Homo sapiens: one gene and its partners. The gene in region 3 interacts genetically with the main gene of each other region. Each region holds a gene or a part of one and is shown on either strand. Other genes may lie near its edges.

Region 1 (3,500 bases), on a different chromosome or scaffold from region 3:
ATCTATCAGATGAACTGATACTTAAAGAAAAACAATAATTTGCTTTCTTTTTCCATGACTATTCAATGGCCTCTTTTAGTATTTTTTTAAACATTAAAATGGCTTCAAACAATTTAACTAGACTTGATTATTGAATGAATACACAAAATCTGCTGGTTAACTTTAATTCTAAGGCAAGTCAGCTTCTAAGTCTTTTACTGTCCTACTTTTTTTCTTTCTTTTTTTTTTTGGAGACAGAGCCTTCTTGTTCTGTCGCCCAGGTTGGAGTGCAATGGCCTGATCTTGGCTCACTGCAACCTCACCTTCCCAGGTTCAAGTGATTCTCCTGCCTCAGCCTCCTGAGTAGCTGGGATTACAGGCATGCGCCACCACACTCAGCCAATTTTTATATTTTTAGTAGAGATGGGGTTTCACCATATTGGCCAGGCTGGTCTCAAACTCCTGACCTCAGGTGACCCACCCTCCTCAGCCTCCCAAAGCGCTGGGATTACAGGTGTGAGCCACCGTGCCCAGCCCTGGCCATACTTTCGTAACAAGGAAGAAGCAAGGCCGAATCCTTTCTTTTCATAAAGATGAATGCATGATAAACCAATAACTTTCATCTGTTAACTGAGCTGCATATAATTAGAGACCTATCTCAAGACATACTAGAAATTAAGAAACTACAAAATGTTATTCCCCTCTCTGCCTCTCCTATTTGTCAAAAGCAACACCATGCTCATTTATGTAGGCTTGGCACCACCTGACTCCTCCCACTCCTGAGCCTGCATTTCAAGTTCTGTAAATATAAACTCTGTACTAGCATCATTATATCTCTCTTTTCCACTCCTGCTGCTCCCCTCTTAGTTCATGCTTCCTCTCATTTGATCAGCTCATCTTTGGCAAGATTTTGCAATAATATACTAAGCTAGCTCCCTGCCCCCACATCCTAGCACTCCAGAGAGTTATTCATTCTCATCACATCAGTGATCTTTCTGAAATCAGAAATTCAACCACGTCACTTTTCAGCTTACCATTCAATGAATTTCTTCGAATGCTAAACATAGAATTGCCACACAACCAAGCAATTCCACTCCTAGGTATATATCCAAGAGAGATGAAAACATGTCCACATAAAAACTGGGGGGCTGAGCACCATGGCATGCACCTGTAATCCAAGCTACTCAGGAGGCTGAGGCAGGAGGATCACTTGAGCCCAGGAATTTGAGACCAGCCTGGGCAAAACAGACCCCATCTCAAAACAAAACAAAAATGTGTACACTTGATCACAGCAGCATTATTCATAAAATTTAAAAGCGTAAACAAACTAAATGTCCACCAACTGACAAATGGATAAACAAGATGTAGTACAAATACACCACACAACATTATTTGGTAACAAAAAAGAATGATGAACAGATAAATGCAACAGCATGGATGAATACTGAAAACACTACCTAAGTCAAAGAAGCCGATACAAAAGACTACATATTATATAACTCTTTATGTAAAATGTCCAGCATAGGAGACTCCACAGAGACAAAAAGTAAATTGGTGGTTGCCTGGGGCTAAGGTTGGGGTGAGAGTTTGGGAATAGGAGCAGCTGCATCCAGTGTTTCTTTTGGGGGAAGCTAAAAATATTCTAAAATTAGATTGTGATAATTGCACAATTTGGTGAAAAAACTAAAATTGTACACTTTAAATAGGAAAATGTATGCCATGAAATATATCTCAACAAAGTAGTTTAAAAAATCTCCACAACTTCCTACACCCTTCCACCTTTCCTGCCTCATCTTTTGTCCCTCCCCACATAAATCCTTTAACCCCAAAGGATAAAATCTCCTGCATTAACATGTGATAGCTACAAGAATGGGGTTCACCTTCCTACCCTTGCAGCTGTAGCCTGTGATCCTAAAGGAGGGATTCTGCCACCATGAGCTTCCATTGTAAAAATGGAGAAATATCTTACAAGGATATGAGATAATGATGTAAAATATAACATGCTCAGCACCGTGCCTGGCATGCGGTTAAGTGCTCAATAAGTGATGGTCATTCTCATCATTCCCAGAAGGAACCAAAGTATCCCTCTCCTTTGGGACACCTTCAAGGAGTGAAACACACTCCCCCACCTGGTCCACCTATTAAATATCTGCATATTTTCCAAAATGGGGGTCAAATGTCCCTCATCCTTTTCACATTCCTCAAGGCAGTAAGCCCCTCGAGGGTAGGGCCAGTGCCTATTCACCTGTGTGCCACCCCCTGCCAAGGCTTACCACAATACCTGGTACTAAATTGTTTCAAGAAGTACACATTAATGATTACTATTACATATATAAACATGAATATTGATTATCAGACCTACAATAGCCACGACCCACAATAAGACCCACCTACGACCCACAATAGCCAAGATCAGGGTAAATGTGTTAATCATTTTAACTCTTTTACCTCTACTCTTCAGCGACAGCCTCCAGTTTTTATTTATTTATTTGAGACCAAGTCTCACTCTGTTGCCCAGGCTGGAGTGCAGTGGCTGCATCTTAGCTCACTGCAACTTGCTACTCCCGGGTTCCAGCGATTCTCATGCCTCAGCTTCTCGAGTAGCTGGGACTACAGGTGCGTACCACCACACCTGGCTAATTTTTTGTATGTCTAGTAGAGACTGGGTTTCACCATTGTTGGCCAGGCTGGTCTCAAACTCCTGGCCTCAAGCGATCCACCCACCTCAGCCTCCCAAAGTGTTGGGACTATAGGCATGAGCCACCACACTCAGCCTCCAGTTAATAATATTTAGTAAGTACAGGCAACGTCCTAACTGCTCTAGAGATTATCTCATTTTATCCTCACTTGCAACTACCCTCTGGGGCAAGTACTATCATTTTATAGATAAGAAAACTGAGGCTGGGAGGTATTTACTGGTACATTTATTTTGAATGAAAAAAATGAGGAAAAGAAAAACAAAATGACTGTGTATGCCACTACAGTTCACTGAATTGAATACATTCTAGGGGCTCCTTGTAAATGTCCATGGCTTGCCTTTTTTCTTGCTACTAACGGAAATCACTGTTGTGCTTGACACACCTGGCTTGCCAGGACAGTCTTTTCCAGGAAACTCTCCAGCTTTGGGACCTCTCCCTCCACCATGACATCTCCTCCCTGCCTTCATCCCAGCCAGCCCTCTGATTCATTCTCATCAATGATTTTTCTGAAATCAAAAATTCAACCATGTCACTCTTCAGCTAACCATTCAATGAATTTCTTCAAATGCTAAAATACAGAGTTGCCATACAACCTGACTTCTATTAGAATAAACTAGAATTCTAAACCAATACATGGATTAGTAAGACTAGATATTCCTTACTCTGGTCTCACATTGGAGCAAAACAAAGAGAAAAGGGACACAGCCAATTTTAAAGCTATCCAAGTCACACTAGGGATTCCCAGGACCTCCGTATGAATCCAGGAAGTGCCAGAATCAGATTTTCCTCAAAGCGTCCTCTGGCAAATCCATAGTCTGAGGA
Region 2 (3,500 bases), on a different chromosome or scaffold from region 3:
CACTATGTTGTGCCTTTGTCCATTGTTATTTTGTTAAATATCTTCGGTTTATTTGCTGTGTTTTAGCAATTATACTAAGAATGCCAGGTCATTTCATAGCATCCAGACTCTTATCCCCAAATGGCTCTTTATATCTCTGAATCTGACCCTCCTCAACTGTCAAAACTTTCCCACTGTACTTGTAGAACTTACTACCCTTGGCAAAATCTCTTACAATCTTAGCCTATTCCAGAATGTTGCCTTCACCTTTTGACTCTAATAGAAACCTGCCTGTACCCTGGAGACGTTACTTCCCCAGCAGTTCTTTTAAGTAGTTGCTGTTTTCTCTCGCATACTCTTTTACCACTGGGTCTAAAGATGGGGAAGGTATCTCTGTAGCTCTTCACTGTCAAATCTAGATCATTTCTCTTCCTTCCTAACAATTTCTAGCTTTGTAGCTTGTATCATTAAACTGCATCATTTACTATCTTTTTTTGTTGCTGTTATCTACCAACTGCCAGGTTATTTCTCCTCCTCCACCACTCTGCACTTCCTTGAATATTCTAAGCTTGCTGTCACACTTTCTCCAATACTGTTTTACCCTCATTCTTTTACTTCAATATCCATGTAGGTGATCTAATACCATGGTGTCTCACTTCTTGATCTCTCTCTACATCAGCTACCCACTTCCATGGGAGGATTCCCTATGATTCCCTAGAGATATTCTAATTACCAGTAATTGCTACTCCTCCTTCCCAGTCTAAATTTTAAGAAATCCAATAGTTAACTACCAGTCCCTCTTGGTCTCCCAGCTCCAAGAATTATTCATTCCCTCTTTGTAACCTACATCGATTGATCCAACCACTTTTTCACAGTCCCTCATGTATCTCACACATTCTCACTCCCTACTTAACCCAGCACAGACTGATATCATGGTTTATCATTATCATCATTCCTCTGTACACATGACCACCTCCCCTGCATCCTCTTTCTTTGTTGTGTTTCCTTTGTTTTGACAATTATCTTCTCTGCCACATCATCAATATTCATCTCTCTAGTTTAGGTAAGTAATCACTCCTACAAGTTTTCAAGTAATCACCCCACTGCCACCATACTGACCACAACTCCAGCTGTTCTTCAGCTGTATTAGGTGAGCTCTCCACTCAGAGCTTTTGTATTTCCTGCTTCCGTTGCCTGGAATGCTTTTACTTCATAGTTTACTCTCTTTCCTTAAGGTCTTTTTCCTTATTTGTTATCTTGTGTGGCCTTCCTTGGCTACTGCATTTAAAGTTGTACCTCTGCTCCTGCACTCCTTGTTGTCCTTTGATTTACTTTTCTCAACAGCATTTATCATTTCTAGCATACTGGATGTTTTCTGGCTATCTCCCATCACTAAAATGTAAGCTTGATGAGGACAGGGCCTTGTGTGTTTTTTTCCCCTGCTTGGTCTTCAGCACCTGGAATAACGCTTTGAACTTGGTAGGTGCACAATAAATATTTTTCTATTAAGTGAATGAAGTTGTTCCTTCCTCTTCATGCTTAAGGGTTTTTTGTTTTAGGGCTAAGAGACATTCACATCAGAAAGCATGGAAAGTTTTTGTTTGTCAAGCAATAAATTGTAGATTGGGCTGCAAAATAAGAAACACTCTTGAGAACATGTTACTATTAGTAGAATAATAGTAACATGGGCTCAAGCAATCCTCCCACTTTAGCCTCATGAGTAGCTTGGACTATAGGCACACACCACCATGCCCAGCTAATTTTTTAAATTTTTGTAGAGACAGGGTCTCACTATGTTGTCCAAACTGATCTTGAATTCCTGGACTCAAGCAGTCCTCTCACCTTGGCTTCCCAAAGTGCCGGGCTTACAAGCATGAGCCACTGTACCTTGCCCAATCTGGTTCTTTTTTTTTTTTTGAGACAGAGTCTCACTCTGTCAACCAGGCTAGAATGCAGTGGTGTGATCTTGTCTCATTGCAACCTCCATGCCTCCCCAGGTTCAAGCGATTCTTATGCCTCAGCCACCCAAATAGCTGGGATTACAGGCACTCGTGACCACGCCTGGCTAATTTTTGTATTTTCAGTGGAGAGGGGGTTTCGCCATGTTGGCCAGGCTGGTCTCTAACTCCTGGCCTCAAGTGATCTGCCTGCCTTGGCCTCCCAAAGTGCTGGGATTACCAGGCATGAGCCACCACACCTGGCCCCATTCTGGTTTTTGTGACAAGGATCTGGCTTGTCTCCCTTTCTACTTTTCACTGATATCTTTGTTACTTTGCATTTCTGTAGTACAGTCATGCATTGCTTACTGATGGGGATATGTTCTGAGAAATGCATTGTTAGGCAATTTCATTGTTACGTGAACATCATAGAGTGTCACTTACGCAAACCTAGATGGTGTAGCCTACTACACACCCAGACTTTATGGTATAGCCTATTGCTCCCAGGCTGCAAACGTATACAGCATATTACTGTAGTGAATACTATAGGCAATTGTAACACAATGGTCAATATTTATGTATCTAAACGTATTTAAACATAGAAAAGGCACAATAAAAATGTGCTATAAAAGATAAAATGTAATATACCTGTATAGGGTACTTAACCAAAAATGGAGCTTATAGGACTGGAAGTTGCCCTGGGTGAGTCAGTGAGTGTAAAGGCCTAGTACATTACTGTACACTGCTGTATACTTTATAAACAAACACTGTATGCTTAGGCTACACCAAATTTTTAAAAAAATATTTTTCTTTCTTTAATAATAAATTAACCTTAGGTTACTGTCACTTTTAAACTTAATAAACTTAAAAAAAATTTAATACTTTTTTACTCTTTTGTAATAACACTTAGCTTAAAATATCGTGTACAGCTATACAAAAATATTTTCTTTATATCCTTATTCTATAAGCTTTTTTGTATTAAAATTTTTGTTTGCACTTTTTAAACTTTTTTTGTGAGAACTAAGACACAAACACAGTCTAGGCCCACACAGGGTCAGGATGATCAATATTACTGTCTTCTACCTCCACATTTTGTCCCACTGGAAGGTCTTCAGGTACAGTAACATGCCTGGAGCTGTCATCTCCTATGATAACAGTGTCTTCTTCTGGAATACCTCCTGAGGGGCTTGCCTGAGGCTGTTTTACAATTGACTTTTTTTTAACAAGTAGGAGTACGCTCTAAAATAATGATAAAAAGTATATAGTATAGTAAATGCATAAACCAGTTGCCTAGTCATTTATTATTATTTTTATTATTTAATTATTTTGGTTGAGACGGGGTCTCACTACATGTTACTCTGGCTGGTTTTGAACTCCTGAGCTCAAGCCTCACAAAGTGCTGGAATTACAGCCATGAGCCACTGTAGCCTGCCGTTATTTATTATTATTATCAAGTATTATGTGCTATACATAATTGTATGTGCTATACTTTTATACAGCTGGCAGTGCAGTTGGTTTGTTTACATTGGCACCACCACAAACATGTAAGCAATGCATTGCACTATGGCGTTCTGCACCATCACT
Region 3 (3,500 bases):
ACTCGGGAGGCTGAGGCAGGAGAATTGCTTGAACCCGGGAGGCAGAGGTTGCAGTGAGCCAAGATTATGCCACTACACTCCAGCCTGGGCGACAGAGGGAGACTCCATCTCAAAAAAAAAAGAAAGAAAAGAAAATGCACATTATAATATGATATAATTATTTGCCTCTGGAAAAAGTTTTAAAAGATTCTGGCCAGGCGCGGTGGCTCACGCCTATAATCTCAGCACTTTGGGAGGCCGAGGTGGGCGGATCACGAGGTCAGGAGATCGAGACCATCCTGGCTAACAAGATGAAACGCATCTCTACTAAAAATACAAAAATTAGCCAGGCGTGGTCGTGGGCACCTGTAGTCCCAGCTACTTGGGAGGCTGAGGCAGGAGAATGGCGTGAATCCAGGAGGTGCAGCTTGCAGTGAGCCAAGATTGCACCACTGCACTCCAGCCTGGGCGACACAGCGAGACTCCATCTCAAAAAAAAAAAAAAAAATTATATCCAGCGTTGGCAAAGGTATGGGGAAATACTGTCAGACATTACGGATGGGGTATAACCTAATCCAATCATTTTCAGGGGGAAATTTGCAGGATCTACTATAATTTAGTATGTGTATATTCTTCAAATCAGATATTCCATTGTGAGGTATCCACCCTAGAGAAATACTTCCAGATATGCAGACAGGTAGGTATAAGGATATTCAGTGAAACATTGATTATAACAGTAAAAAATTACAAACAACCTAAATTAAAGTACATATGGGCTGGGCCAGGCACAGTGGCTCACGCCTGTGATCCCAGCACTTTGGGAGGCCGAGGCGGGCAGATCACTTGAGGTCAGGAGTTTGAGACCAGCCTGGCCAACATGATGAAACCCTGTCTCTACTAAAAATAAAAAAATGGGCCAGGTGTGGTGGTACATGCCTGTAATCCCAGCTACTTGGGAGGCTGAGGCAGGAGAATCACTTGAACCCAGCGGCGGGGACAGGAGGAGGTTGCAGTGAGCCAAGATCGTGCCACTGCTCTCCAGCCTGGGCGACAGAGCAAGACTTCATCTCAAAAAAAAAAAAAAAAGTACATATGGAATATTATGTAGCAGTGGTTTAGGGGTGAGCTCCATGGCTCACGCCTATAATCCCAACACTCTGGGAGGCCAAGGTGGGTAGATTGAGCTCAAGAGTTCAAGATGAGCCTGAGCAACATGGCGAAACCGTGTCTCTACACAAAATGCAAAAATTGGCCGGGTGTTTTGGTGCGCACCTGTAGTCCAAGCTACAGGTGCAGGAGGATGGCTTGAGCCAAGGAGGTCAAAGCTGCAGTGAGCCACTATTGTGCCACTGCACTCCAGCCTGGGCAACAAAGCAAGGATCCTGACTCTACACATTTTGTTTTTTTTGAGACAGAGTCTCGCTCTGTCAACCAGGCTGGAGTACAGTGGTTCGATCTTGGCTCACTCCAACCTCCGCCTCCTGGGTTCAAGTGATTCTCCTGCCTCAGCCTCCCGAGTAGCTGGGACTACACGTGCATGCCACCACACCCAGGTAATTTTTTGTATTTTTAGTAGAGATGGGGTTTCACCATGTTGGCCAGGATGGTCTCGGTCTCCTGACCTCATGATCCACCCGCCTCGGCCTCCCAAAGTGCTGGGATTACAGGCGTGAGCCATCACGCCCAGCCTCTAAAAAAAATTTTTTTTTTTTTTTTTGAGACGGAGTCTCACTGTTGCCCAGGCTGGAGCGCAGTGGCGCGATCTCTGCTCACTGCAAGCTCCGCCTCCCGGGTTCACGCCATTCTCCTGCCTCAGCCTCCCGAGTAGCTGGGACTATAGGCACCCGCCACCACGCCCGGCTAATTTTTTGTATTTTCAGTAGAGACGGGGTTTCACCATGTTAGCCAGGATGGTCTCGATCTCCTGACCTCGTGATCCGCCCGCCTCGGCCTCCCAAAGTTCCTGGGATTACAGGCATGATCCACTGCGCCCAGCCTAAAAAAATTTTTAATAAAAAAAAATATATATGTGTCAACTGAGAAATACTATTCAGCAGTTAAAAAATAAGAAGAAAAGGCCGGGCGCGGTGGCTCACGCCTGTAATCCCAGCACTTTGGGAGGCCGAGGCGGGCGGATCATGAGGTCAGGAGATCGAGACCATCCCGGCTAAAACGGTGAAACCCCGTCTCTACTAAAAAATACAAAAAATTAGCCGGGCGTAGTGGCGGGCGCCTGTAGTCCCAGCTACTTGGGAGGCTGAGGCAGGAGAATGGCGTGAACCCGGGAGGCGGAGCTTGCAGTGAGCCGAGATCCCGCCACTGCACTCCAGCCTGGGCGACAGAGCGAGACTCCGTCTCAAAAAAAAACAAGAAGAAGAAGAATGAGGCCAGGCATGGGTGGATCACACCTGTAATCACAGCACTTTGGGAGGCCAAGGCAGGAGGATCGCTTGAGCCCAGGAGTTTGATACCAGCCTGGGCAACAAAGGGAGACCCCGTCCCTACAAAAATGTAAAAATTATCAGCCTGGGCAACATAGGAAGATCCCATCTTTACAAAAAAATTTAAAAATTAGCCAGGCATGGTGGTGCATGACTGTAGTCCCAACTCCTTGGGAACCTGAGGTAGGAGGATTACTTGAGCCCAGAAGGATGAGGCTACAGGAAGCTGTGATCCTGCCATTGCACACTCCAGCCTGGGTAACAGAGCAAGACCCTGTTTCAAATTTAAAAAAATAAATAAAAAGAATGTACTATTAACATATACAACATAAATAATAAATCTCAAAAACATTTATGTTAAACAAAAGACAGTATACGAACTATATCCCATCTGACTACATTACTAAGAAATCCAAATAAAGGCAATTGTGGGAGAGGGGAGTGGACTAGAAAGCGGTAAAAGGGAACTTTCTGAGAGAACAGAAATGCTCTGTATCTTATTTTGGATGCTGGTGACATGGGTACATACAATTGCTAAAACTCACTAAATAGGCCAGGCGTGGTGGCTCATGCCTGTAATCCCAGCACTTTGGGAGGCTAAGGCAGGTGGATCACGAGGTCAGGAGTTCGAGACCAGCCTGACCAACATGGTGAAACCCCGTCTCTACTAAAAATACAAAAAAACTGGCCAGGCGTGGTGGAGGACACCTGTAATCCCAGCTACTCCGGAGGCTGAGGCAGGAGAATAGCTTGGACCTGGGAGGCGGAGGTTGCAGTGAGCTGAGATTGCCCTACTGCACTCCAGCCCAGGCAACAGAGCGAGACTCCATCTCATAAAAAAAAACAAAAAAACAAAAAACAAAAAACAACAACAAAAAAAAAACCCTGACTGAATTGATCTTAAGATGTTTGTATGTTCTGAGACGAAGTTTTGCTCGTTGCCCAGGCTGGAGCACAATGGCGCAATCTCGGTTCACTGCAACCTCCGCCTCCCAGGTTCAAGCAATTCTCCTGCTTCAGCCTCCTGAGTAGCTGGGATTACAGACGCCCACCACCATGCCCGGCTAATTTTTGTATATT
Region 4 (3,500 bases), on a different chromosome or scaffold from region 3:
TATATTTAGGTGGTCCGTTTCTTATGGTTTCTGTTAGGTTGCCATCTTAGGGAGACTAAAAGCTCATTTTTTTTTTTTTTTTTTTTGAGACACAGTTTCACTCTGTCACCAGGCAGGAGTGCAGTGGCACAATCTCGGCTCGCTGCAACCTCTGCATCCCGGGTTCAAGTGACTCTGGTGCCTCAGTCCCTTGAGTAGCTGGGACTACAGGTGTGCACCCCCACGCCGGCTAATTTTTTTTGTTGTTAGTAGAGACGGGGTTTCACCATGTTGGTCAGGCTGCTCTCAAACTCCTGACCTCAAGTGATCCACCTGACTCAGCCTCCCAGAGTGCTGGGATCACAGGCGTGAGCCACCGCGCCTGGCCAGAAATGAATTCTTTTACCTTCTGAACTAGCGGTTCATTGGTAGGTTAGGTTTCACACTTAAATTCCTTTAAATGATGAATGTCTTCTGGTCTGTCCAGAGGCCCAGGGCAGCCAGGTTTGGGTGGGATGGATGTGAGTTAATTTGTCTTGAGAAGGGAAGTTAGTTTTAGTGATTTTCTATTTTATTTATTTATTTTTGAGATGGAGTCTCACTCTGTCACCCAGGCTGGAGTGCAGTGGTGCGATCTTGGCTCACTGCAAGCTCCGCCTCCTGGGTTCACGCCATTCTCTTGCCTCAGCCTCCCAAGTAGCTGGGACTGCAGGTGCCCGCCACCACTCCCGGCTAATTTTTTATATTTTTAGTAGAGACGGGGTTTCACCGTGTTAGCCAGGATGGTCTCGATCTCCTGACCTCATGATCCACCTGCCTTGGCCTCCCAAAGTGCTGGGATTACAGGCGTGAGCCACTGCGCCCGGCCAGTTTTAGTGATTTTCTAACATATCATTAGCCTCAACTGAGGTTTTACCACATTTGCAGACCGTTCTTTGGGAAATTACGTCTTTAAGACATTGAAATCTGTGCTTGTTTATCCAGGATACTTTGAGTTGTAGTAAATTTGGGTTTGTTTCCAGGATAGGAAAAAAATCTTAAGCAGTATGTAAGTTTTAGAAGCATCAGGTTGCTTCATATCCCATTTCTCTTAGAACTTCTCTGTGCCGTTGTCCTTCAGTAAGGAGCTGCCTGGGTGTCTGTGAACTGTCCACACATTTACTATTTGAGGTGCCCCTGCCTCACTGTAGGTCAGCTGTCCGGAGTATGTACAGTATGTATAGCTGTTAGGCCTGAGATGATGATGATGCAGCCAGATAAGCCCTTAGATCAGGATTGGAGATGAGGAAGTCCACCTGAGGCTTCTCCATTTCACAGCAGTAATGTTAGGAGAGTTGGAAACATATTTTGCCAGGACTTTGCCAGGATGTCAGGAACCTTTGAAACCTATTGCCTCCACTTCCCCCTACCCTCCCTCTATCACAGACACGTACCATTGGCTTAGGCTGGTACCTCCAAATGGGGAGGCTTTTAAAATTCAGACCAGAGCCCATATAATGAACAAACTAAAGAACAGGTGGGCCATCGAATAATTAAAGTAGAATTTGTTCCTGTGGTCAGGGGCTGAGCCATATTGTTTTTTTTTTTTTCTTTCCAAGATTTATTTAACAATTTAATTAGTTGCACAGAATGTAAATTCTTGACTTTTCTTTCTTTTAAATGGTTGTCACCAGGGTCACTTTCCGTATCCTGATCCTTCCCAGTGGACAGATGAAGAATTAGGTATCCCTCCTGATGATGAAGACTGAAGGTGTAGACTCAGCCTCACTCTGTACAAGTGGGTGTGCTCCAAATTTCTTTATGTCATATTTACCTTTTTTCATAAACATTAGTTTTTACTTTGTGCCTATGATGGACTTGAAAAAACTGCATATTCTAACAGCATGAAGTTGAGTTAACCATGTCCTGTATCTGCTTTTTTTTTTTTTTTTGAGACAGAGTCTTGCTCTGTCGCCCAGACTGGAGTGCAGTGGCGTGATCTGGGCTCACTGCAACCTCTGCCTTCCAGGTTCAAGTGATTCTCCTTCCTCAGCCTCCTGAGTAGCTGGGATTATAGGCACATGCTACCACACTTGGCTAATTTTTGTATTTTTAGTAGAGGCAGAGTTTTGCCACGTTGGCCAGGCTGGTCTCGAACTTCTGACCTCAAGTGATCTGCCCACCTCAGACTCCCAAAGTGCTAGGATTACAGGTGTGAGCCACCACGCCTGGCCATGTATCTGATTTCTGCCTTAAGTTTTCACATTTGCTTTGGTCTCTTCTTCCTTTTCATTGTATGTTTTATTTTATTTACATTTTTTATTTTGTAGAGACAGGGTGTCACTATGTTGCCCAGGCTGGTCTTGAACTCCTGGGCTCAAATGATTCTCCTGCCTCTGCCTCCCAAAGTGCTGGGATTACAGGCATGTGCCACCACACCTGGCCCATTGTATAATAAAAAAAAATTTTTTTCCTAAGTTAGGTTATAATTTTAGGGTTTCATTTATCCATCCACTGATCAAAGATATATTAAGACCAATTCTGTGCCAAGCACAGGCCTACAGTGGTGAACAGGACAGATGGAGCTTACAGTACGTAGCTGCAAAACTACAGTGTCCTGCTCTCAACATTTAAATAGATCCAGCATATGGGAGTATTACTATATAGAACTATATGAAAACTAACTCTTTAAACAGTAAAGGGTTATGGCTTTTTCATTTTCCAGGTCAGGAAGTCAAGAATTTTTCTTCTTTAAAAAGGGAGGTACTAAGAAGGTTCCCTTTCCTCATAAACCCCTAGGGGTTAATATGTTTTTATTTAACATGCTTTTATTTTATATTTTATTTTATTTTATTTTATTTTAGTTTGTTATGTTATGTTATGTTATGTTATGTTTTATGTTATGTTATGTTATGTTATGTTATGTTATGTTATGTTATGTTATTTGAGACAGGGTCTCATTCTGTCATCCAGACTGGAGTGCAGCGTGATCATGGCTCACTGTAACCCCAACCTCCTGAGCTCAAGTGATTCTCCCGCCTCAGCCTTCTCAGTAGCTGGGACTACTACTCTTGGCTAATTTTTGTATATTTTGTAGAGATGAGGTTTTGCCATGTTGCCCAGGCTGATCTCAAATTCTTGGACTCAAGTGATCCACCTCTTGGCTTCCCAAAGTGTTGGGATTACAGGTGTGAGCCAGTGTACCTGGCCAACAAATTTGTTTTAATGACTGGACTGTAAACCCTTGAGAGAGGAAGGGTGATTTTGCTTCTCTTGTCTACAAGGCTGTCACATGATCAGTGCTCAATAAATACTTGAATAATTGAATAAATGAATTATGGATTTGAATTAGTGAATATAAAAGTACTTAAAGCTTTCTACTTTTGTTTTCCTGCAGGAGCCAGGTGAGAATTTCAAGGATTATCGACTTCATATTGCACATTAAAGTTACAAATTAAAGTGGCTTGGTCAAGAATGAGAATGGAGTTGTGGATCTTTTTTTTGGGGGGGGGTGGGGTGGTGGAGAGGTGGTGGGAGGGGGG

The links. A genetic interaction does not mean that the proteins touch.
Region 1: changes in MED24 (region 3) and MICOS10-NBL1 together harm fitness more than expected from each alone (negative genetic interaction), as found in Homo sapiens cells (one large-scale study listed by BioGRID).
Region 2: changes in MED24 (region 3) and MRPL42 together harm fitness more than expected from each alone (negative genetic interaction), as found in Homo sapiens cells (one large-scale study listed by BioGRID).
Region 4: changes in MED24 (region 3) and NDUFB2 together harm fitness more than expected from each alone (negative genetic interaction), as found in Homo sapiens cells (one large-scale study listed by BioGRID).

Annotation. Positions count from the first base shown.
Region 1 is NC_000001.11:19,603,479-19,606,978, reverse strand, and holds part of MICOS10-NBL1 (neuroblastoma suppressor of tumorigenicity 1 isoform a precursor), read right to left. Parts: intron 1-3,500. UniProt on the Homo sapiens protein: Possible candidate as a tumor suppressor gene of neuroblastoma. May play an important role in preventing cells from entering the final stage (G1/S) of the transformation process.
Region 2 is NC_000012.12:93,481,014-93,484,513, forward strand, and holds part of MRPL42 (large ribosomal subunit protein mL42 precursor), read left to right. Parts: intron 1-3,500.
Region 3 is NC_000017.11:40,044,409-40,047,908, forward strand, and holds part of MED24 (mediator of RNA polymerase II transcription subunit 24), read right to left. Parts: intron 1-3,500. UniProt on the Homo sapiens protein: Component of the Mediator complex, a coactivator involved in the regulated transcription of nearly all RNA polymerase II-dependent genes.
Region 4 is NC_000007.14:140,703,208-140,706,707, forward strand, and holds the end of NDUFB2 (NADH dehydrogenase [ubiquinone] 1 beta subcomplex subunit 2, mitochondrial precursor), read left to right. Parts: intron 1-1,652; coding exon 1,653-1,727; 3' UTR 1,728-1,756; intron 1,757-3,355; 3' UTR 3,356-3,436; downstream 3,437-3,500. UniProt on the Homo sapiens protein: Accessory subunit of the mitochondrial membrane respiratory chain NADH dehydrogenase (Complex I), that is believed not to be involved in catalysis. Complex I functions in the transfer of electrons from NADH to the respiratory chain.